6 separate regions of the Homo sapiens genome follow, and all the other regions are linked to region 5. Evidence: fine-mapped expression QTL. A gene starts in region 5. Each other region holds a variant in brackets. All regions are shown on one strand. Distances are from middle to middle.

The links. PIP is the estimated chance that this variant, and not a neighbour inherited with it, causes the effect.
Region 1: its variant is fine-mapped to the expression of PRKCQ-AS1 in iPS cells (iPSCORE, PIP 0.95).
Region 2: its variant is fine-mapped to the expression of PRKCQ-AS1 in skeletal muscle (GTEx, PIP above 0.99).
Region 3: its variant is fine-mapped to the expression of PRKCQ-AS1 in whole blood (INTERVAL, PIP 0.98).
Region 4: its variant is fine-mapped to the expression of PRKCQ-AS1 in whole blood (TOPMed, PIP above 0.99).
Region 6: its variant is fine-mapped to the expression of PRKCQ-AS1 in whole blood (TOPMed, PIP 0.99).

Annotation. Positions count from the first base shown.
Region 1 is chr10:6,627,864-6,631,954 of GRCh38, forward strand. It overlaps LINC02648 (long intergenic non-protein coding RNA 2648), which reads left to right. Exons shown (of 6, transcript NR_120634.1): 5 at 1-514. Among named protein-coding and RNA genes, the nearest start is that of LINC02648, 11 kb to the left of the region's middle. RefSeq lists an enhancer at 1,886-2,457. The variant T/C (reference allele first, on the strand shown) is at 1,928.
Region 2 is chr10:6,469,604-6,473,694 of GRCh38, forward strand. All of the region lies in intron 12 of PRKCQ (protein kinase C theta), which reads right to left. Among named protein-coding and RNA genes, the nearest start is that of PRKCQ, 110 kb to the right of the region's middle. The variant G/A (reference allele first, on the strand shown) is at 1,872.
Region 3 is chr10:6,611,990-6,616,080 of GRCh38, forward strand. No RefSeq gene overlaps it. Among named protein-coding and RNA genes, the nearest start is that of LINC02648, 4.7 kb to the right of the region's middle. The variant C/T (reference allele first, on the strand shown) is at 1,782.
Region 4 is chr10:6,605,380-6,609,470 of GRCh38, forward strand. No RefSeq gene overlaps it. Among named protein-coding and RNA genes, the nearest start is that of LINC02648, 11 kb to the right of the region's middle. The variant G/A (reference allele first, on the strand shown) is at 1,926.
Region 5 is chr10:6,578,274-6,582,364 of GRCh38, forward strand. It overlaps PRKCQ-AS1 (PRKCQ antisense RNA 1), which reads left to right and starts at 2,152. Exons shown (of 2, transcript NR_036503.1): 1 at 2,152-2,654. It overlaps PRKCQ (protein kinase C theta), which reads right to left and starts at 2,003. Exons shown (of 18, transcript NM_006257.5): 1 at 1,938-2,003. RefSeq lists silencers at 2,005-2,254, 2,265-2,414.
Region 6 is chr10:6,599,478-6,603,568 of GRCh38, forward strand. No RefSeq gene overlaps it. Among named protein-coding and RNA genes, the nearest start is that of LINC02648, 17 kb to the right of the region's middle. The variant C/T (reference allele first, on the strand shown) is at 1,875.

The DNA.
Region 1 (4,091 bases), 50 kb after region 5:
AGCACAGTAAGGGGTCTTAATGTTCTGGTCAACCCTTCTTGCCCACACTAGTCATGGAAGTCTTTGTTGAAATGCCCCCAGTGAAAGGAGGTTCATTTCCACCCAAGGTAGCTCATTCAATTTTGCCACAACTGTGTGTGTGTGTGCGTGTGTGTAAATGTGTGGGTGCATGTGTGTATGTGTGTGTTGGTCCATGTGTGTGTGGCTTCCTCCACCCATTAATTGTAATTCTAGCAGTTGGGGCCATGAAGAAAAATGCAACAACTCTTCTGGGCAGGAGGCTTTTAGATGACTGAGTACTCTTTTGACATGTTTCTTTATTTCTTTACCATCGATCTCTTTCCTCCAGGATTAGCATAATCAGTTCTTGTTTTTTTTTTTTTGTTTTTTTTTTTTTATTTCTCTGAGAGGGACTCTTGGTCTATCAGCCAGGCTGGAGTGCCGTGGTGTGATCTGGGCTCACTGCAACCTCTGCCTCCCAGGATCAAGCGATTCTCCTGCCTCAGCCTCCCAAGTAAGTGGGATTACAGGCATGTGCCACCACGCCTGGTTAATTTTTGTATTTTTATTAGAGATGGGGTTTCACCATGTTGGCCAGGCTAATCTCAGACTCCTGATTTCAAGTGATCTGCCCACCTCAGCCTCCCAAAGTGCTGGGATTACAGGCGTGAGCCACCACACCTGGCCATTGCTTTTGTCTTCTTGCAGCTATCAGTGTGTACTCCAATGCTTCATAAATTTGAGTAAAATGCAGATTCCTTAAAATAAATCACAATATTATGCTCTCTCTCTCTCTTCCCCTCTCTTTCTATATATATATATATATATATATATATATATATATATATATATATATATATCTGATTACTGACTGAATTAGTTTTTATTATTTAAACCTAAGATTTAAAACCCTTCTGTTCATAGTCCTTAAACATGAAACTTAAAAATTAAGATTAAGTGTAGAATTAGCAATTTAACAGGACAGATTAAAATGTGTTTTACTGAAGCCAAATTATTTTCAATGTGAAGATACTACTACTATCATATAGCATGCATTTACATTGTTTATTGATTCCTTGTTATAACCCAATTCTCCTACCATTTGTTCTGTATATAAAATGAGGATACAAAATGTATTGTCTCCTCAAAGGGTTAGTGTGAGACTTGCACGAAATCATGCATATCAAGCACAATGCTTATTGCAGGATAATGGTCAAAAATGGCAGATATTATTACTATAATTGTTATTGCTGGTGCTACGTTATCATTGGTGCTTTGTCTGCTTGCAGATTCGAATGGAATACAATAAAACCTTGCTGACAAACATCTTTCAAGTTTAGGTCTAGTTTCCAGTCCCCATCATGACTTTTAAAATTTGCTCTGAAAATTCCTGGTCATGACTCTTTCTAAATTAAACAGACTTTCAAGTTGCATATTAAAACGTGGGTCACCTCAGGGCAAGCTAGAAAGCCAGGGAGGAGTTATAATGATGTATAAAGGACATTCCATGTTGCATCTTCCTCTACTTCTCTGAAAGAGCTCAAAATTAATGTTCAGAATCAAGAAAATACTACGGACCTGTCTTCAATATCGTGGCTGCCCCAAGATAGATAAAGTTTTGATTTTCTTTGTCTTTGAATGTAATACATGGTAGTTCCTTGAAGGTTAATGAACTGCTCACAGAGTTTTGGTATAATAAATCTTTACACAAACTTTCATGCGCGTCCGTGTGAAGAGACCACCAAACAGGCTTTGTGTGAGCAACATGGCTGTTTATTTCACCTGGGTGCAGGCAGGCTGAGTCCGAAAAGAGAGTCAGTGAAGGGAGATAGGGGTGGGGCCGTTTTATAGGATTTGGGTAGGTAAAGGAAAATTACAGTCAAAGGGGGTTTGTTCTCTGGCGGGCAGGAGTGGGGGTCGCAAGGTG[T/C]TCAGTGGGGGTGCTTTTTGAGCCAGGATGAGCCAGGAAAAGGACTTTCACAAGGTAATGTCATCACTTAAGGCAAGGACTGGCCATTTGCACTTCTTTTGCGGTGGAATGTCATCAGTTAAGGTGGGGCAGGGCATATTCACTTCTTTTGTGATTCTTCAGTTACTTCAGGCCATCTGGGCATATACGTGCAAGTCACAGGGGATGTGATGGCTTGGCTTGGGCTCAGAGGCCTGACATTCCTGCCTTCTGATATTAATAAGAAAAATAAAACAAAATAATGTTGAAGTGTTGGGGCAGCGAAAATTTTTGGGGGGTGGTATGGAGAGAGAATGGGCGATGTTTCTGAGGGCTGTTTCAAGCGGGATTAGGGGTGGCTTGGGAACCTAGAGTGGGAGAGATTAAGCTGAAGGGAGGTCTTGTGGTAAGGGGTGATATTGTGGGGATGTTAGAAGAAACATTTGTCATATAGAATGATTGGTGATGGCCTAGATACGGTTTTGGATGAATTGAGAAACTAAATGGAATAACAGAAGGAGAAAAACAGGTATAAAATGTCTAAGAATTGGGATGACTCAGGATATCTGATTAGAGAGTGCCTAAGGAGATTCAGCATAGTCCTGCCAGCAAAGATTATTTATTTACTTCAAGAGTTAAGAGTGGCAGTTTGGGGATAGCACCAGGAGATATCAGCTGTGATGGCTTGGAAAAACAGTGTAAACCAGCAGTGTAAACAAGAGCAGGGCATGTATGAGTAGTTGAGAACGGTGAATAGGAGTATGACTAGACAGAAGATAGTAGGGATGACAAGTTTTTTGGGGCACAGTCCAAGTTGGTCTGGTGTCTGGAATGAGACTGGGGCCTAATAAAAAGGAGCGTCTATACAAGAGCTTAAATGGGCTGTACCCTGTAGCATTCTAAGGACAGGCCTGAATTCTGAGAAGGGAAAGTGGTAAAAGTATTGTCCAGTCCTTTTTAAGTTGGTGGCTGAGCTTGGTGAGGTGTGTTTTTAATAGACCATTAGTCCTTTCTACTTTTCTTGAAGATGGAGGACCGTAAGGGATATAAAGGTTTCACTGAATACTAAGAGCCTGAAAAACTGCTTGGCTCATTTGACTAATGAAGGCTCATCTGTTATCAGACTGTATTGAGGTGGGAAGGCTAAACTGAGGAATTATGTCTGACAGAATGGAAGAAATGACTGCGGTGGCCTTCTCAGACCCTGTAGGAAAGGCTTGTACCTATCCAGTGAAAGTGTCTACCTAGACCAAGAGATATGTTAGTTTTCTGACTCAGGGCATGTGGAGTAAAGCTAATTTGCCAGTCCTGGGTGGGGCAATTCCTCGAGCTTGATGTGTGGGGAAGGGAGGAGGCCTGAATAATCCCTGAGGAGTAGTAGAATAGCAGATGGAACACTGAGAAGTTATTTCCTTGAGGATAGATTTCCACGATGGAAAAGAAATGAGAGGTTCTAAGAGGTGGGCTAGTGGCTTGTACTATAGCAAAACCTGCCTTTGCTGGTGTGTGGCGATTAGGCCTGGTGGAACCGCCATCAATAAATCAAGCATGATCAGGGTGAGGAATAGGAAAGAAGGAAATTTGGGGAAACGGGGTGAATGTCAGGTGGATCAGAGAGATAGTCATGGGGGTCAGGTGTGGTATCAGGAATAATGTGGGAGGCCGGATTGAAGTCTGGGCCAGGAACAATGGTAATTGTGGGAGGCTCAACAAAGTGTGAGTATAGCTGAAGGAGCCAGGAAGCAGAAAGTATATCCATCAGGTATGAGGAAGAAAATAGATTTTGGAAGTTAGGAGAACTGTAGAGAATGAGTTGAGCACAGTTTGTGATTTTGAGGGCCTCTAAAAGTACTAAAGCAGTGGCAGCCGCTGCATGCAGACATGAGGGCTAGGCTAAAACAGTAAGGTCAAGTTGTTTGGACAGAAAGCCTACAGGGTGTTGTCCTGGCTCTTGTGTAAGAATTCTGACCGCGCTAACCATGCCTAGGAAGGAAAGGAGTTGTCGTTTTGTAGAAGGTGCTTGGGTTTGAGAGATCAGTCGGACACGATTGGCAGGGAGAGCACGTGTGTTTTTATGAGAATTATGCAGAGATAGGTAACAGATGAGGAAGAAATTTGGGCTTGATTGAAGTAATGGGGGCTGTCT
Region 2 (4,091 bases), 110 kb before region 5:
GGTATCTTGAAGTCTCAACTTTACTAATAATTTTGGATTGACCACAGAAAAGAGCACTCTCCTGTGACCAGCTAGGCTTATCTTCTCTGGAGCTCCATTTCCTTTGCTGCAAAATGAGGGGATCTGACTTGATAACCTCTACCACCCCTCCCTACTCTAAAATTCTTGATCCATGGAGTCTGTCATTATAAGGAAAACAAAAGAACATAACAAATCATTAGTTGTCAATGGAATATTACTGAGCAATGAAAAATGAGTTCTCAAGCCACAGAAAGAAAAGAAGAACCCTTAAATGCATATTCTTAAGTGAAAGAAGCCTATCTGAAAAGGCTACAACCTGAATAGTCTCCCTCTTGTCTGGTTTCTCCATCTCTGGCTCAAGCATTTCCCATGATTCTCATCCCTTACACTCTGCAGTCATAATGAGCTTCCATCTTCTGAAAACTCTTTCTGGAAGATTTCTGTATCACCACTGAATCTGCCTATCCACCACTCACTCCTTCACACTGTATTGTCTGTTCCTCCTCCATGACACATTCCACACTCAGTTTTTGATTGTCAACTCTTCACCACATTAAATATATGATCCTTTCTCTCTTGAAATTCTTTCCTCTCCTGTCCTCCGATACTCCTAACTCCTCTGTTCCTCTTCTTACCACCCCAAGGGATCCTCCCTATCACCTTTCCCCCCTGCTCTTCCTCCTACTTTGTAAAAGAGGGCTTTTCTGTGGTTTAGCACTTGAATTTCTGCAGTACGTTGATTCTGACGCTCATATATTCCCACAGTTTCCCCTGAAGAGTCCCATGCGTGTCACCTCCTCAGGATGGGAACTGTAATCACCTCAAATACAACGTAATGTTGGGTCTAATAAGGAAACTCCACTCTGCTCCACTTTAGGAAGAAATCGTTGCTAGGAACAACACATATTAAACTGCTCTATGCTATTTATCAGATATTTCTCTAAGACTGGTGGTGGAGAAGAGGTTCCTGAAGTGACAGAAGTTTTAAGGGGGAGAGACAAGGAGATGGAGAAGAACGATTTTGCCATCAAGGATCAAGGCAGAGGCCAAGCGCGGTGGCTCATGCCTATAATCCCAGCATTTTGGGAGCCTGAGGTGGGTGGATCACTAGAGGTCAGGAGTTCAAGACCAGCCTGGCCAATATGGTGAAATCCCATCTCTACCAAAAATACAAAAATTAGCCAGGCATGGTGGCACACACCTGTAACCCCAGCTACTTGGGAGGCTGAGGCAGGAGAATCACTTGAACCCAGGAGGTGGAGGTTGTATTGAGCCGCCTGGGCAACAGAGTGAGACTGTCGCAAAAAAAAAAAAAAATCAAGGCAGAGACCTGATAGCTACAGTGGGTACAAGATCATGTGAACTCTGGGATGAAGGGGAAAATAATGAAACAGGAGGTCAGAGAGGGGTGGGAAGAGGGTTTGTCAAAGATAGACTTCTCCTCTGCAGTTCTATTCGGGACCAGCCTTCCTGGCACCTGAGTTAGCCAGTATGATCTACAGTCAGACCATTTATCTTTCTTTTTCTCTTCCGCTCCCCCCTGTGCCCAGCCCCTGAACATTATCTAGCACTCTACGGGCAAATGAAACAAAAGAAAAGAGCGAAACATGCATCTTGGTATCAAGGAATGTATTATTTACATAGACAAGGTATTATTTAAACAGAACATATGAAAGAAGTCACAGAAGACACCCAGCAGTACAGGAGCAAAATCATCTTTCTGGGTCACGTAAGCTGAGAAGCCTGAGCGTCTGAATGACAAGTAGGATTTAGTGTATCTGAGCGTGATTTATAGAGTAGGTAGTTTGTCAGCAAGGTTTCAAAGGAGGGAGAGTAGGCTGGGCATGGTG[G/A]CTCATGCCTGTGATCCCAGCACTTTGGGAGGCCGAGGTGGGTGGATCACTTGAGGTCAGGAGTTTGAGACCAGCCTGGCCAACATGGTGAAACCCCATCTCTACTAAAATACCAAGAAAAAAAAATTAGCTGGGCGCAGTGGCGCACGCTTGTAATTCCAGCTACTTGGGAGGCTGAGGTAGGAGGATCACTTGAACCCAGGAGATGGAGGTTGCAGTGAGCCGAGATCGTTCCACTGTACTCCAATCTGGGCGACAGAGTGAGACTCCTTCTCAAAACAAACAAACAAACACAACAATGACAACAACAACAACAAAAAACAAAAGAGGGATAGTAGATTCACAGAAGGCATGCACTTTCCTGAGGCACTCTCTTGAAGGAGATGTCAAATGCTCATGTCTTCTGGGAAGCTGGTGACAATACTTTTGGGACTTTGTGAGAATGGCTGACAAAGGAATGGGCAGATAATATGGGCCATGAGCCTGGAAGAATATTACAGAGTCACATCAAGATGAGAACAGATCTGTGAGCTTAAAAAGTGGGCGTGTAGGGGCCGGGCGCGGTGGCTCACGCCCGTAATCCTAGCACTCTGGGAGGCCGAGGTGGGTGTATCACAAGGTCAGGAGATTGAGACTATCCTGGCTAACACGGTGAAACCCCATCTCTACTAAATATACAAAAAATTAGCCAGGCATGGTGGTGGGCGCCTGTAGTCCCAGCTACTTGGGAAGCTGAGGCAGGAGAATGGCGTGAACCCGGGAGGCAGAGCTTGCAGTGAGCCGAGATCGCACCACTGCACTCCAGGCTGGGCGACAGAGCGAGACTCCATCTCAGAAAAAAACAAACAAAAAAAAAGCAGGCATGTAGGAAAGATGCGGCATTTCAGATGCACTGAGTGAGTGTCTTGTTCTTTTAGTCCAAGAATTCCTGAATATGTATTCACTCATTGCCCGTTATTTCCTGTGTATTTGGACGAGAAAACTGTAAGGAAACATTGTGAGTGCAACATTAATTTCCCATAAATTACTGTGTGAAAATAAATAACATTTAAAAGGTGTTAGAATTCCTAAAATGCGTTTTACGCCTTGAGAGAGATGCGACTGTGATCTGAGTCACATATGGTTACAACTTCTGTTTCTCAGATTATAGATTAACTTGCTTCCTTTTTTCTCTTGTTCTGTACAATGACTAGAGAGAATTAAACAATTGTCAGGGACAAACACTTCCTGACTTCTTTTATTCTTTTTTTCTTTTTGAGACGGAGTTTCACTGTTTCGCCCATGCTGGAGTGCAGTGGTGTGGTCTCAGCTCACTGCAACCTCCGCCCCATGGGTTCAAGTGATTATCCTGCCTCAGCCTCCTGAGTAGCTGGGATTATAGGTGCCCACCACCCCGCCTGGCTAATTTTTGTATTTTTAGTGGAGACAGAGTTTCGCCATGTTGGCCAGGCTGGTCTCAAACTCCTGACCCCAAGGTGATCCACCCGCTTCAGCCTCCAAAGTGCTGGGATTACAGGTGTGAGCCACCGTGCCTGGCCGCCTCCTGCCTTTTTAATTAATGAATCTTGTTAAAGATTACCTTTTCCTTTTTTTGTCCTATTTTCCTTAGACCAGATGACAGAAAACCCATGACTATAGCACACTCTGTAAAAGATGTTAAATGTCCCTTTCCCAAAAAGAAACACTGCCTGTAACCAAGTTCCTGGAACTATGCACCAGCCTTGTATGAAAAAATGTAATCCTGCTAAAAATGCCTCTGTCTCTCCCTATGGAAACCCTAAAGTTCCCTCCTTTACAACTCTGACTTCATTCTTTTGGGGTGTTTCCAGGTGGGCCATCCTCAAACTTTGAGTTTGAATAAATGCTCTTTAAATTAGATTCTGGCCTTTTTGATTATTTCAGGTTGACAGCTGTAAATCGACTCATTTTTGTAAATTTGCTATAAAATCTAACATTTGCCAAATCACAGTTTGGTTACATAGCAGGGGAACCTGCAGAATGTCTGAGTGATCCCCAGTTTCTGAAATAACAACGTGTAAGCGTTCTCAGGATCAGAACGCCGCCAGAGGACGTTAAAGAAAAGAGGCTTATCTGTCACTACAGATGGGGGCAGCATGAAAAGTTAATTCTTGTCTTAGTGCAGGGACACGTCTTTGGAAGGATGTGGTTTCCGTGGGTTTTCTTTTCTTTGCTACAATTGTGGTAATTTCCAGGGCTCCT
Region 3 (4,091 bases), 34 kb after region 5:
ACATGCAAAAGAAAACAGCTGGACCCTTCCTCACATAATATGCAATTATTAACTCAAAATGGACCAAACACCTAAATGTGAGAGTTAAAACTGTAAAAATCTTAGAAGAAAACATAGGGGTAAATCTTTGAGACTCTGGATTAGGCAATGTTTTATTAAATACAATGCCAAATGCACAAACAACAAAAGGAAAAAAAATGGAACTTCAAAAATGAAAACATGTGCTTCAAAAGATATCATCAAGAAAGTGGAAAAACAACCAAGAGACTTGAAGAATATATTTGCAAATCATATATCTGATAAAGGACTTGTGTCTAGAATATATAAATAACACAACTCACTAATTAAAAAAAAAACACCAAGTCAACCATTTAAAAAAATGGGCAAAAGATCTAAATACACATTTTCCAACGTAGATATAAAAATAACCTGTACATACATGAAAGGATGTTCAACCTCATTAGTCATCAGAAAAATGCCAGTGAAAACCACAACCACTTCACACCCACTAGGATGGCTGTAATTTTTTTTAAAAAAAACAGATATAATAAGTGTTGATGAGAATGCAGAGAAATTAGAACTTTTATTCATTGCTGATGGGAATGTAAGAATGGTTTAGTCACTTTGAAAAACAGTCTGGCAGTTCCTCAAAAGGTTAAACACAGAGTTAACATATGACCCAGCACTTCTACTCATAGGCATATACCCAAAAGAAATGAAACATATGTCCACACAACGACTTGTACATGAATGACCACAGCAGCATTGTTCATAATAGCTAAAAGCTGGAAATAACCCAAATGCCCGCCATGTGATTAATAGATAAGCAAAATGTGGTAGATCTATACAGTGAAATATTATTTGGCAATAAAAAGGAATGGAATACTGATATATACTACAACATGGCTGAACTTTGCAAACATACTCTGTGAAAGAAGCCAGTCATAAAAGATCACATGATATATAATTCAATTTATATGAAATATCCAGAATAGATAAATCTCTAGAGACAGAAAGTGGATTACTGGTTTCTTAGGGCTGGAAGGAGGGCTGGGGGGATTAGAGAGTGATGGGTAGTGGGTACAGGTTTCTTTCTGGGGTGATGAAATATTCCAAAACAGATTGTGTTAAAAACCACCACATTGTATACTTTAAATGAATTATTTGCATGGTATGTAAATTATATCTCAATAAAGTTGTTACAATGAATACATATTCTTGTAGCAAAAAATAAAAGATGAGATAGTGAAATGCACAAAATGCTACTAAAAGGTGGTGTAAAATCAGGATACAAATATCCAACATATTTGGTAACACGCAAGAGAGCGGTCACTTTGATAAGAGCTGGTAGAGCAGGCTTACCTGAAAAGCCTCTAAGAATTTCCAGGCCATGAAGAGTGTTTATTGGAGATTTATCAACATGAGTTCAAAATGAGACCAATCTGTGAACTAGAGCAGACCCCAAATATTGGTCTGGGTGAAAAAATCGACAAAAATAAGGACTTGGGCTTGCCTAATGTTGCTTTCACTAGGTTTTACCATGTACTTAGCAAGAAAGTAAAGGAGACATTTAAAATATGAACATTTTGTAATGGGGTAAGGGATCATTGTTCTCTGATCCCTTACCTGTTCCTGCTATAGATGAATCCAGGATTCGGTGGTGCCTGTTCCAGGAACCTTTAGTGTGAAGGATCCTCCAGGTGAGAGAAGCCTTTATGTCTTCTGAAATGGTTCTGCTGTGTCCCCACCCAAATCTTGTATTGAAGCTCCCATAATTCCCG[C/T]GTGCTGTGGGAGGGACCCAGTGGGAGATAATTGAATCATGGAGGCAGTTTCCCCCATACTGTTCTTGTGGTAGTGAATAAATCTCACCAGATCTGATGATTTTATAAGAGGTTTCCCCTTTCACTTGGCTCTCTCATTCTCTCTTGCCTGCCGCCATATAAGATGTGCCTTTTGCCTTCCACCATGATTGTGAGGCCTCCCCAGCCACACAGAACTGTGAGTCCATTAAACCTCTTTTTCTTTATACATCAGCCAGTCTTGGGTATGTCTTTATCAGCAGCATGAAAACAGACTAATCCACCTTCTTTGGGCTTGATGGGTGGGGATAGGGAGAGGTGGAGATAACCTGCCTCACTGAGACCTATCATCTGGGTTCTAAGTGCATAATTCCTTGCTGGCCCCAGATACTGAACCAAGTTCTCCTGTGTTTAATTTCTTGCCTTTCCTTCGTGTCTACTCGAAGTTTCATGGCATCAGACGAATCTCTGCCCCAGCGGGGTCATATGAATTTCTTCTGAAACACTCAAATGCATAGGGCAATGAGAGAGTGGAGCATCAGCAGGCTGACATCTGTTCTTTAAGAACTCTTTAGCAGAAATAGTCAGACATAAATGTGCATGCTCATTTAAGCTACGCTCTAGGACACAGTTTCTCTAATGGCATCTTGTGAGATGTCACTGGTGATTCTGCAAGGGAGTGTGAATGAAAAAGTAAACCCTAATTAAAAAAATTTTTTTTGCAGTAGGTTACTGGGGGTACAGGTGATGTTTGGTTACAGTTCTTTAGTGGTGATTTGTGAGATTTTGATGCACCCATCACCCGAGCAGTATACACTGCACCCTATTTGCAGTCTTTTATCCCTTGACCCCTCCCACCCTTTCCCCCAAGTCTCCAAAGTCCATTGTATCATCCTTATGCCTTTGTGTCCTCACAGCTTAGCTACCACATATCAGTGAGAACATACAATGTTTGCTTTTCCATTCCTGAGTTACTTCACTTAGAATAATAGTCTCCAATCTCATCTGGGTCACTGCAAATGCCGTTCATTCATTCCTTTTTATGGCTGAGAAGTATTCCATTGTATATTTCTACCACAGTTTCTTTATCCACTTGTTGATTAATAGGCATTTGGGTTGGTTCCACAATTTTGTGATTGTGAATTGTGCTGCTATAAATCTGCAAGTATCTTTCTCGTATAATGACTTTTCGTATGAATCTGCAAGTATCTTTTTCTTATAATGACTTCTTTTCCTCTGGGTAGATGCCCAGTAATGCGATTGCTGGATCAAATGGTAGTTCCATTTTAGTTCTTTAAGGAATCTCCACAGTGTTTTCTATAGTGGCCATACTAGTTTACATTCCCACCAGCAATTAGAAGTGTTCCCTGATCACTGCATCCACGCCAACATCTACTGTTTTTTGATTTTTTGATTATGGCCATTCTTGCAGGAGTAAGTTGGTATCACATTACGGATAAACCCCAGTTTTTGAACTTCACATACTGCACAATGCTGGTGATGTAGCAGCCCTGTTGGGATTTTGTTAGGGATCCTTAATCCTTGTTGTGTTGCTGTGAACAGGACTGTGTTTATTTGCAGGAGTCCATTCTCAATTTTCTGTGCAAATTGGGGAAGGCTGTTGATAATCGGTGGATGCTATAGTGCCCATGGAAAGACTCTAGTCTGAAGATACCAGTCTCTCCCTCCCAAGATCACCTCCCCTGACCAACCTTCTGCACTCCTGACAGATACAAGGGAGCAAGCAAGTTGCACCCAACCTAATAGTAAATTGCAGGGACATTTCCATTCTAAGGAAGGAATTTTTGTGTGTGTTGCAACTCAGCTTCTGCTCTGGCATTTTGCTGTGGTAAGCATTGCAAGGCAAGGTTTATATAGGTTAGAAGAGAATTTTATTGTGACATTTTCTTTTTTTTTTTTTTTTGCAATTTCTGTTCAAGTATTTATTATGCCCTCTGTGTTATCATTTATTAGCATTTATATTGCCAATCATGTTGGAGAGTCCATGTGGTGATTTCTGAAAACGAGATGTGAGAAAGAAGAGGATAATTTAAGTCTAGACCTACAGATTGTGCTGATAAAGTGATGAAGAACTACAATCTTCTTAGTCATTTCATTGTATAAGTGCAATAAAGGGTATGTAATAAATTTGTATGTTCATATTTACAACGGAAACTGCTTATCAATGAATTTCACGGGGCATTTGTGTCTTGCCAGATTTTGTGTCTTTCCTGGCAAACAACTTGTGACCACAGTGATGGCTCCAGCAGAATGGAAAAGACCCTTTACCTC
Region 4 (4,091 bases), 27 kb after region 5:
CACGGGTTCCGGGATTACAATAACATCTTTGGGGGACAATTATTTTTTTTCTATGACACCCTCTAATGATGTCCCCTAAGAGAGGCCAGATGGTTACTCCTTCATTAAGAGGTGGAGAAATCGGCCAACAAGGGGAAGGGGAGGGTCTTTACAGAGTGCTGAGGGGTGGGCCTCTGCACTGACGGGCAGAGGTGGGAATACTGTAGCTCAGAAGGGTCCTGAAGTCCCAGGGTGGCAGAGCTAGAGACAGAACCAAAGCGAGCATGGCGACCAGGAGTTTTGTTTTTGTTTTTGTTTCTTGAGATGGAGTCTCGCTCTGTCGCCCAGGCTGGAGTGGAGTGGCGCAATCTTGGCTCGCTGCAAGCTCCGCCTCCCAGGTTCACGCCATTCTCCTGTCTCAGCCTCCCAAGCAGCTGGGACTACAGGCGCCCGCCACCACACCTGGCAATTTTTTGTATTTTTAGTGGAGACGGGGTTTCACCATGTTAGCCAGGATGGTCTCGATCTCATGATCTCGTGATCCACCCGCCTCAGCCTCCCAAAGTGCTGGGATTACAGGCGTGAGCCACCGCGCCCGGCTGGTGACCAGAAGTTTCTGAGGAACCAAAAAGTTTCTTGGGCAACAGCCTATTTGCAGAGATGAGCATAAGGTACATAGATATGACCTAGATCTCAGAAATACGCTCAAGAGACAAAACTACCCTTGGCTGTTGGGAGAGAGAGAGGCAAAGTTCTGTTAGACTTGTTTCCCAGCCTATATTCCATGAGTGCTCAGAAGAAAAGGGATTGAAAATAAACAACAATGATCAAAATCAGCAACCAAAATAAGGCAAGAATGACTTTGAGAGGTTTCCTTCTTTGCTTTGGCTTTTTTACTTTTGGGAAATGGAACAAAGTCTAGGATTTTTGGGAAAAGTATTAAAGAAGCATTGGTGCTCCAGACTTGGAGGCTGGCTATGGTGGTCAAAGGCAGCACAGCACCAGTGCCGTGGCCTCTGTGTCCTTGTGGTGACATGGTTGGGTGTAGGGGCATGATCAGTGGCAGTTACAGGAGAAGACAAAATACCCTCCAAAGACTTATAGGAATAGGTATGGGGGATGCATATTTTTAGGAGGACAGAGATTATGCAAAAAAGGGAAAATATTATCTTCAGAAAAATGCTGATACTATTAACTAACATTTATCACTTTTTATGTGCCAGCCTTGTGCTCAGCACTTTACATGCATTTTATTTATTTATTTACTCTTTTTTGAGACGGAGTCTCGCTCTGCCACCCAGGCTGGGGTGCTGTGGCGAAATCTCTCTCGGCTCACTGCAAGCTCCACCTCCTGGGTTTCATGCCGTTCTCCTGCCTCAGCCTCCCGAGTAGCTGGGACTACAGGCGCCCGCCACCACGCCCGGCTAATTTTTTGTATTTTTAGTAGAGACAGGGTTTCACCGTGTTAGCCGGGATGGGCTCTATCTCCTGACCTGGTGTTCCGCCCACCTTAGTCTCCCAAAGTGCTGGGATTACAGGCGTGAGCCACCGTGCCCACCCTACATGCATTTTATAACTTCATCATTTTCTCAACTTGTGGGGAGGAGGTAAGGGAGGCTTAGGAAAGTTAGGTAATCTGCGTGGTTATCTTTAGGTGGGAAGTGGGGGTGCAGAGACCACCACAGGGTCCTTCCGTACAAAGTTTGGCAACTTCACGGCAGGCCACCCTAGAAATGTGCCGCATGGGTACTCTGTGACTTGTAAGGCTTCTGAAAACCAACTTATACTCCACGTGGAAACTGAGGCTTGCTAAGGTGAAATAACTTACCAGAGGTCACATGGGTTCTTATTTCAGAACTGGGACAAGAATCTAGGTTTCTGACTTCCAGCCCAGCGTTGTTTTGGTGACAATATACTGTCTGATTGTAGAATCACTCAAGAGGGGA[G/A]CAAAGCTCAGGAAATGAGATCAGCCCAGTCTCCATGTGATGAAGCAGATCACAGATCCTCCCCGGATACACGTTTACCCCAAGATGAGAGCAGGCTAAGAGCTGAGAGTGGTATGCCCCTTCATGCCCTCCCACCAGCCTCACATACCACACAGAGCACATTTCTGACTAGCTTCTGTCACATTTGACACCCACCCTGGGGACCTGAGAGTCACCCAAGGGAATGAATGAAGCAGAGCTACAAATATTCAAATGGGTAAATTTCACAATGTAATATTGAGAAGACACTCGTAAGTTAAGGTGAGTGTGTACAACATGATAAAACATACATAAAGTTTAAGAAATGTTAAACAAGGCTCTACATTTTTGAGGATATATGCATATATAGCTTAAGTATAAAAAATGTGGAGTAATGCTAATCTTCAAATTCAGGGAGTGGCTTCTTGGGTGGAAGTTGGGGGTGGCGAGTGGAAGCACAGAAGGGTGAGGGGTATAGGATGACACCACCTTGAACTCATGATGAAGAGCTTGGCTCTTTCCCGGCAGTTTTATTCAATGCTCCAAAGGCCATTTTCGGTGTTGGGAGCAGTAGGGGTAGGGAGAGGGGTGGAAAATCTTGGCCTTGGCCCAGCTATGTCTAGATAAACTGGAAATTTGCCCTGACAGCTCTTTTCCTCTATTGTGCAAGGCAGGGCCAAGTGATGTCATTGGGACATGCAGATGTCTCTGTCCTCTTCTTTGACTAGTGCCAAGAAAAATGATCTTTGCAATGAACTGATGCTCCTTCCCCCAACTCAGATTCAGCTGTCTTATCATTTCTAAACCTGTGGCCACAGGCTAGATCCCTGGAAACTCAAGAAATGCTTTCCTTGAGGGAAATCATGCCCTGCTGCTTTCTGCTTTAAAACAGAGTGCTGGCTTATCTCCAGGATAGTGGAAAAGCTGTTGGCATCTCAGTTATGTTACAAGGGGCACACACAAAAAGCAAATTAATTGCTTCCTTCCTACCTTCTTTTATTCATTTATGTATTCATTCATTTAAGGAAAGAATATTGATTGAACATCTACTCAAGAACTGCAAAACAGAGATTACCTGACCTAAAGGTAAGTATTGGCAACAGAGGAGACAAACTTGGGAGCAGGCAGCTATAGCACAACACGGTGCAGCCATACCTAGGAGAGGGAGACGGGAGTCCCAGGAAGGATCACCTAACACAGCCTGGAGAAGAGCTGAGAGGGGAAAGCCTTAGAAAAAGGGCCACATGAGATAAGTCTTTAACAGTAAGTGGGAGTTAACCAGATGGAAAATGGGCAGCAGCAATTTTGGACAGAGCAGCAGGTGGAAAGTCAAGGGGCCATGAGAAAGCAGGATGCTTGTGGGAACTGCTGGAGACGGATGGTGGTGAGTGGATGGGATTCTAATCAGGACCATGTTTGTCCTCAATTTCTCCAGGGTGGCATGCACACAACAGCAAAAATGCCTATGTATTCCACGCTGGGCACTGTACTAGGAGTTTCACACATATGATCACATTTCATCTTCATTTTACAACCAAGGAAGTGGTCTAGGCTAGACTTGACCCTGAGTTGCCATCTCCTTGTATTTGCCCTTGACACTGTTACTACATGGAATTATAAGATCCACTCTGCTTACCACACATCTGTTGTGATGGTCAAATGATGCAAAGTATGTGAAAGCACTCACAGAACTACAAAATGCTTCATGTATAAAGTCTTGTTTCAACAATACAGGTCTTTTAGTGGAAAACTAGAATTAATAATGCTGTACTGATAATTTCCACTGTATTTCTAGTTGGTGTGAGGTCAGGGATCTGAGGTAGCAGAGAAAGGAGGGAGGCAATTTACACTCGGGGAATATATTTTTAAATGTCCCCTTGCACAAAAGTCATTTAGTTATGTGCAAGATCATCTTTAGCAGATTTATTAATTTGTGATCTTTATTTTGGGAAATTCAAATTATAGTGAATTCCCACCCATGCTTATTATGTAGCAGAAATCGTGCATGTCATCAAGGGCAGGGGAGGGAATCTCAGGGACTGGGAAGGGTGATTGGACATAGTACCTTCTAAACTCATATTAATAAAATAAAGTTATCAAATGAAGCCCAGGGTTGGGAAGGACTTATATGTGGAAATTCTTTTAGCA
Region 5 (4,091 bases):
TCTGTAGGAGAACAGAGGTAGAAGTTAGCTCCTCAAGTAACAGTTGCCATCCCGAGGCACCACAGCACAAGACAGTAGCGGAAATGAACATGACAACGCGGATGGTGGGTGACAAGAGTCTTGCCTGGATATTGACATTTTTAAAGTGTAGAAGAAAATCGCAGGTCACTGAAACAAAGGCTGATGGTGCCCAGCAGGTTACTCTTGAAATCAGAAACAGAAGTTCATGAGAGGCAAGAAGACAGAAACAACAACTGAAAAACTTAGAGTGGATCGCTAACTTGCAGGAGCTGTGCAGCTTTGGCTTTGCAGGTTTTAGAAGCTCTCCCTACGCCACGTCTTTAAATATATGTATGTTCAATCAGCAGGAGGAAGGGACTAACAAGAGCCTTCTGCGGTAAGCACCTGCATCAAACAATGGCACTGATCTCAGAGGGATTTTAAACAGCTGTGCATAAACTTCAAAAGTAATTTGCAACCATATTAGTAAATGTCACTCTTCTTCCCGCTAGACACAGCACTTTTAAAAGAGATTAAGCATCCGCAGTAAGCCTGCCATTTTACAAGGGTTACCAAAGATAAGTTAGGGAAAATATGAAGATGATGATTCACAAGGTCGGGGTGTGGGGTGGGGTGGGGGACCCAGGACCTTAGGAATAGGGCTTGTCTATCACACAGCCTCGGGCAAGAAGGGCCCAGTGGGGACCATGGCTTCTAGGGAGCAAACCAAGGGAAAAGAGCAACGGAGTGGACCCTCCAGGCTTCTTGCCTCTCTCACGGAGCCTCACGAATCCCAGTGGTTTAGAATTTTCTTTGGCAAAAGAAAAGGTCAAAGAGGCCGGAGTTGACAGAAAGCATGGGCGGACTTCTCAGATCTTGTAGGTGGTTCTTAAAAGAATTCAGCAGGCTTGAGGTGTGCTCTCAAAGGGCAACTGGAACGTCAAGGACTTGGACACCAGGCACAGATGGTTCATTTCCCATGGACAGGAAGAGGGCACGGAGTGCTCCCTCTTCCCTCCACCTTCTCCAGCCTAGTCCCCCTCAGCCTGTGCCACTCCTGAATCATCTTTTATAGCACCACGTCCAGCCCGCACAGGGGCAGGACAGCCCAGGGAACAAGGCAGTCCTGTGGCGCTCTCCTTGCAGAAATGACCGGAGTCTCCCAATCCAGCCAGCCCGTGGACCTCTCTTCATGCCCACGGGGGAGTGCACACGCCTGTAGCATTCAACAGTCACTCTCCCATTGATAACGGTGGCTCTCGAAAATCCAATACCACAAAGATACTTTATTGCACAAACTTTGCTTGGTTAACCTGGCCCTCAAAGCTGGGGAATAACCTCACTTGAGGCTACAGGAATGAGCACGCAGATTTTTCTTTTTTTTTTTTTTTTGGTATCTTTCAAAGACCTGCCTCCCCCTCCCCCAGGCCCTTGACCAGAAACTTGGCTTGTTTAGAAGCCTGAGCAATGGCACCCCCGTCCGTGCTCCAATACATTCCCAGAAAAGGGGTTATGCTCCCCTGTGGACAGGATACCATCTCCAGAAAACATGTTTCCTCACGCATTTTTTTTTTTTTTTTTTACCAAGAATACAAAAACTTTCCACCTTCTTCCCTCCCCGCAGGCCCCCTTTCGTTCAGGTGAGAAGGAAAAGGGAGAAGAAAGGAGGAAGCGCCCCCAGGCCGGCGGCCCCCACCCGGCTAAGGTCGCCAGCATCCCGCATCCCGTGCGACCTGCGTCCCAGAAACCCAGCGGGGAAATTCTTCCCGGTGCGCTCTTGCGCCCGCTTGGTTCCATTTCCTACTCCGCCTGCTCACCCGGCAGCCCTCACCCCTTCCCGGAGGCTCTCCGAGGGGCCCGGGTAGCCCTTCTCGCCACGGGTCTCGGCCCCTCCAGCCCGCTCCCTCCCGGCGGCGGCGCGGGGCGCGGGGCCCTACCTGGAGCGAGCACGGCGCCGCTGCTGCCCGGTGGCGCTGGGACTGCGCGGGGACTGCGCGGGGACTGCGCGGGGACTGGCGGGGCTGGCGGGGCTGGCGGGGCTGGCGGGGCTGGCGGGCCCGGCGCACTGCGGGTGCGCCTAGAAGGCGGTGCCCGCCAGGGGGCGCTCGCCAGCCTCCCCGCCAGCCCGGCCTCCCGGGACCCGGCACCTCTAGCCAGGGACGCGCGCTCGGTCCCCCGCCGTGCGCCCCCGGTCCCGCGCCCAGGCTCCCGCCCCTGGCCTCCTTACCAGCCACTTGTCGCCCAGCTGCGAACTGGAGCGGGAGGCGGCGGCCGGAGGGCCCAGGACAGCCCCGGGAGGGCGGCGAGGCGGAGCAGGAGCGCCCCGGCTCCGGCCACATTCTCAGAGTCAGGAAAAGGGGCGAGAGGCCACATGTCTCCCTCTCGCCCAACTGAAAACGAAACGGCGCTCCAGCAGATTGGGTGGAAAGAGCTGGGTCTCTTTTCTCTGTTTTTCACGCTAGAAAGGGCTTGTAAACATTGTTCCTTTTAAAATGACCTACCCCAGGCATTTGTTTGGGCACACTTCTGTCCTGGGGTCATCGTTCCTAGGTGGCTTCGGACCTGGGACTTTTCCTGTATCTGCACATTGTCGTTTTATACACAATTGCCAAGGTGGGACTGCTTTCAACTTTACTGTGCTTGAAGCTGCAAAGGTAATGTTGCCGCCGTGCGTGTCATTTTAGGACTTTTTATGCCTTGCGGGTAATACTAATGATGGTCACAGGGAGGATAAACGGGGTGGTTTCTTTTTCTATACTCCATGTAACTAATTTCTCATTCAGGTTAGAAAATTATATGTCTGGTTACTAATATTCTTACTGAATGGTTTCCTTGCAATGATGACACCAAATAATTAAAACGTACTTGATTAAGACTTTTGTTGCTGTAGTGTACTAAGATCAGATTAATCTGAGAAGTAAAATAGTAATTTTTTGTCCTTTTTTCTTTTCTTGTTTTGAGAGAGACATTAAAAACGATTAAAACAAAACAAAACAGGCCAGGTGCGGTGGCTCATGCCTGTAATGCCAGCACTTTGGGAGGCTGAGGCGGGTGGATCGCTTGAGGCTGGGAGTTTGAGACCAGCCTGGCCAACATGGCAAAATCGTGTCTCTCCTAAAAATACAAAAATTAGCTGGGTGTTGTGGCACGTGCCAGTAATCCCAGCTACTCAGAAGGCTGAGGCAGGAGAATCGTTTGAACCTGGGAGGAGGAGGTTGCAGTGAGCTGAGATCTCACCACTGCACTGCAGTCTGGGTGACAGCAAAACTCTGCCTCAAAAAAAAAAAAGGTTTAACAAAAGCCAAAAGTTGAATTAGCAGCCTTCTGATCATGGGAATGTAGGATGTCAACTAAAAAGAACCTCAGAGGTTGGGAAGGCAGATGAAAAACTGAGGCCCCGAAGTGTTTCAAGACTTGATTAAATCACTCAGGTCTGCACTAGGAAGCGAGTTATGATGATGCCCCTAATCTATATGAACCCAAATAAAGCCAAAACACACACACCTTTTAAGGATAAAACTATATTCCATTAAAATTAGCCCCGCATTTGTCAATATCTAACAGCATTGGACTGACCCTCAGGCCAGAGGCTGTAGCTCTTGGAAGATCCTAGCCAGGAGGTTTGAGAGTGGCCAGTACCTCGGAAGTGCTGGCTCACTCTGACATCATCAGAACCTGGCATACAGTAGGCGCTCATTGGGTATTTGCTATGGAAATTAGGCAGGAAAGTGCGTCTGTGTCTGGAAACAAAGAGGCAAAGCTTAAGCAGTGATCCCCATGCAGATTCTTTCTGCAAACTACAAAACAGAAGCTTCCCTAGTTCAGACTGCCATCCATCTGGCTCTTTCTCCAATTGTTTTTCAGCGGATCCTGTTACAGTGCAAAGAAGAAATGGCAAACGGATAACAGCTACTGTGCCTAGAAGATGGTAGATTCCTCACGCTCCATATCTGGGTTTCTCATTGACAATTAGGCACTGAAAGGAAGCTCATATGTCCTGTTAATTTAATCAGTAGTTAGTGGCTTTAGAAAAAGTTTCATATATACACCAGGTATGATAAGGACTTTTTTTTTTCTTTTTGAGACAGAGT
Region 6 (4,091 bases), 21 kb after region 5:
TGTATCAGTTGCTCCGCTGCTGATTGGAGTTGAAATCATTGTAAGGGATGGAAGACACCAGGAGGTAGAACTTAAGAGGTAGAACTCCCCATGAAACCTTCATTCATGGCTAACCCCAATAATTTAGCAGCGACTTTTCTTAGCTTGGATTTCCCCCCAAGAAAGCAGAACTTGAGATAAGAACTCTTATAGAAACAATTTACTTTGAGAAGTGATCTGAGAGAACAGGAATGGGGAACTGAGGAGAGTGAGGAGGGAAAGTGGGAATTCCAGCCGGTTTATAGATGCATTATTAGCTGGTTATGGCTGTGGGATCAACCCCAGGGAGGACTGTATTAGTCTGTTTTCACACTGCTGATAAAGATATACCTGAGACTGGGTAATTTATAAAGAAAAAGAGGTTTAATGGACTCACAGTTCCACGTGGCTGGAAAGGCCTCACAATCATGGTGGAGGGCAAAAGGCATGTCTTACATGGTGGCAGACAAGAGAGAATGAGAGCCAAACAAAAAGGGAAACCCCTTATAAAACCATCAGATCCTATGAGACTTATTCACTACCATGATTCAAGTATCTCCCACTGGGTCCCTCCCACAACACGTGGGAATTATGGGAGCTACAGTTCAAGATGAGATTTGGGTGGGGACACAGAGCCAAACCATATCAAGGGCAATCTGAGGAATGGTGTAGGATGTTCCTCAGCACTGTCCACCCAAGACACAGAAATGGAGTATTTCCCTGTTGGCTCTCAGCCCACTGGTCAAGGGCTGCCCCAGCAATTAGCCCACTGGCAGCATGGCTGGGCTGGTTCCTACAGAGATTCCTCACCACAGGAGCAGGACTGCCCCCAGATAGAAGGCAAAAGAGACAGCAGGAAACTGAAGTGAGGTGTTGTGAGGTTCACTTGTGCACAGGTGGTTCCTACAGCAGTGGCTGGAGCAAGACTGATGGGGCATAAATGCTGCCTGACACAATGTGCTTTCCCATAAGCTCATATAGGATCTCAGAATCCTTCTCAATGCAGCGCTCCTGGGAGCTATTATGAGCTCGTTGGAGTTGGCATATGCAAAATTAAGCAAACAATTTGCCAGCTCCAGAAGAGATGATTAAAAACAGTACTGGAGCAAGTTCTTGCATAAGCCTGTGTGAAAGTTACCAAGCATGGTTGATTGAACGGGTACTTTAAAACTTGTGGATTTCCTGTTTGGGTACTCAAGGGAGTCAGCACTAATTCTGGGAAGGTAGTGAAACATTGCCGTCTTTATACGACCAGGTAATGAAGCCAGGCCAGGGCGGTGGTCTTGCTAGGGGGACAGGTGCCATTCACAAGGAGGCTGCTGGTGCCTCAAGAGTCCCTTGCTGGATTCGCAGGCTCTGCATGGCAGCCACCTGAGAACACAGAGCATCTCAAGGGGTTTGAAGAGTTTGTGAGAATTGATTAAACATTTAAATTGGTGTTACATCCATTGATTAGATGTACATCAATTTACTCTCTTTATCCTTGGAATCTTTATCTCCCCAGTTAACACATACTACAAGCGTAGGCTACTAATTTCTTGATTACTCAGAGAAATTATCCAGTTGATAAATCGTATCTGTGAGAAATATAAAAGAGAAACAGATGAATAACAAAATTGATTATTCAGGATAACTAACATCTGTCCTCAAAAATAGTAGTTGAGATGCATGATGGGGTGTCCTTTAAATTAGTAGTCCCCAACCGTTTCAGCACCAGGGACTGGTTTCATGGAAGATAATTTTTCCATGGATGGGGTGGAGACAGGGATGGTTTCAGGATGATCCAAGTGCATTACATTTATTATGCACTTTATTTCTATTGTTATTACATTGTAATATATAATAAAATAATTCTA[C/T]GACTCACCATAAAGTAGAATCAGTGGGAGCCCTGAGCTTGTTTTCCTGCAACTAGACAGCCCCATCTGGGGGTGATGGGAGACAGTGACAGATCATCAGGCCTTAGATTCTCATAAGAAGCTTACAACCCAGATCCTTCGCACACACAGTTCACGATAGGGTTCATGCTCCTGTGAGAATCTAATGCCATCACTGATCTGATAGGGGGCGAAGCTCAGATGGTAATGTGGGCCACGGAGAGCGGCTGTGAACACAGATGAAGTTTGGCTTGCTGGCCCGCCACTCACCTTCTGCTGTGAAGCCTGGTTTCTACCAGGCCATGGAATGCTACATGTCTGTAGGCCAGAGGTTAGGGATCCCTGCTTTAAATACTCATCAATGAGGTGTTTCAAAGAGAATTCGTCCCTGGAACTGTGTATTTGGTAACTAGCATAAGAAGACCTGCCGGTAGATTACAAGTTAATCCATAGCACAGCACAGAAGGAAGCCTTTAATTAGAGACAGAGATATATTCAGCCACCGGTGTTGATCTTATCGTTCTGGGGAAAGCTCGTGGCAGTCACAAAATGTTGAAGACCCTGAGGCTGATGTGATGTGTGGCCAGATCTGCAAAATTGAGAGAAAACTTGAATATTTATTTATTTATTTATTTATTCTGAATTATCCTCATTGGTTTTTAAAAATGCACAGGTTTACTTTGAAAGCATTATTTGGCTTCCAGGCCAAATAGGAAAAAGGGGGCATTTTTTAACCTTGGTTTGGGTTTGGGGGCTTAGAGACAGTTTCTCTTTTAAGATATACAAACCTCCAATATACCTGCAAATAAGTGAGACCAAAACATTGTTTCTTCCTGTGAGTTGAAAAAAAATCTGGTGGGTTTACAGTGGGAGGAAATGATTTCTGGCTGCATGTGATGTAGGAAATGTGAAGACTGCTTCTGTACCCCATAACTGCTATGATTAAATAATGGCCTTTCTCTGCTTGGTTTTAAGATTTGGAGGTGACTTGATGATTTCAGTGTAGAAAAACAGTGCATAGTCTAAAAATGCTTATGGGAAAGTGGAAAAAGGCGTAGAGAAAATAAGAACAGTCTTAGTCACTAGAGAATCTGTGCAAACACGAGCTGCTTGGGGCTTCTCAGAGATGGCTACTTTTGTATCAATCACAAGGCTCCATATGCTCAATTTGTCAGAAACTCACCCAATCCCAGACTCATGCACATATGCACATCCCAGTTTCAATGTTTTATTACTTTATTTCATGTTAAGTGATTATTCTGCACAAATTTTCTCAGGAAGTAATTGTACACAATTCTAGGAGTTAAAGGTAGACATAAATAAGAGTAAAATCCTTTGATCTACAAGTGTTAATTAATTGTGCATAACTAAGCATTATCATGTGAAGATGGATGGAAGTTTCGTAGACCAGACATTTTTCATGCAGCTGTGATCAGTGAGTTTCTCCAGTAGCAAAGACAAACAATTTGTGTATGCAAACCAGTACAGCTAACAATGTCTTAATTGTTGTTATTTAAAAGAGGAGCAATTAATTAGCATTCATATAGCATACTAGCTTTCACTTAGTTAATTGTATAGATCCAAATTCCAAAATAAAAACAATGTGTATATGGCTCTCATTTGCCAAATTCAACATAAGCTGAGAATTTGTAAATTGAGAAGCTTGTCAGAGGGAATTCCCCTCTGGTGGGAATAATTCCTCTCTCACTAGTTAGTTCTCCCATTAGAGACCTTGACTATGGTGTAGAAATCTTTTTTCTCCATTTCTGAAATAAAATAGGAGAACTTTAAACAATAAGATAAAAGTAACTATGAAGAAAAATCCAACACACAAAAAGGTAACAATGGAGCACAATTCGAAGTTCAAATTCCTGATCCGCATAACATCTGAGCTGAGTTTGAATTGCCTCCCTCACTTGCCAAACAACTGGTCCTGCATTCTTCTCAAGGCTCTGACTCCCAGCTCATCTGCCAAGAAGTCTCTGGCATGTCCAGAGCTCACGAATGCAGCTGTTGGGCTTGGATTACCCTCACTGCATGATTTTCCAGATAGTCCCTTGGTGGTACTTCCTTGAGGAATCCCCACGGGAGTGGGCAGACACTGCGGATTGGTTTCAACTGCCTTCTTGGAGTAGAGGCTGGAATATTAAAAATGACATCTCCTAGATTCCCTTGCAGTTGGAGTTTGGGATGTGATTT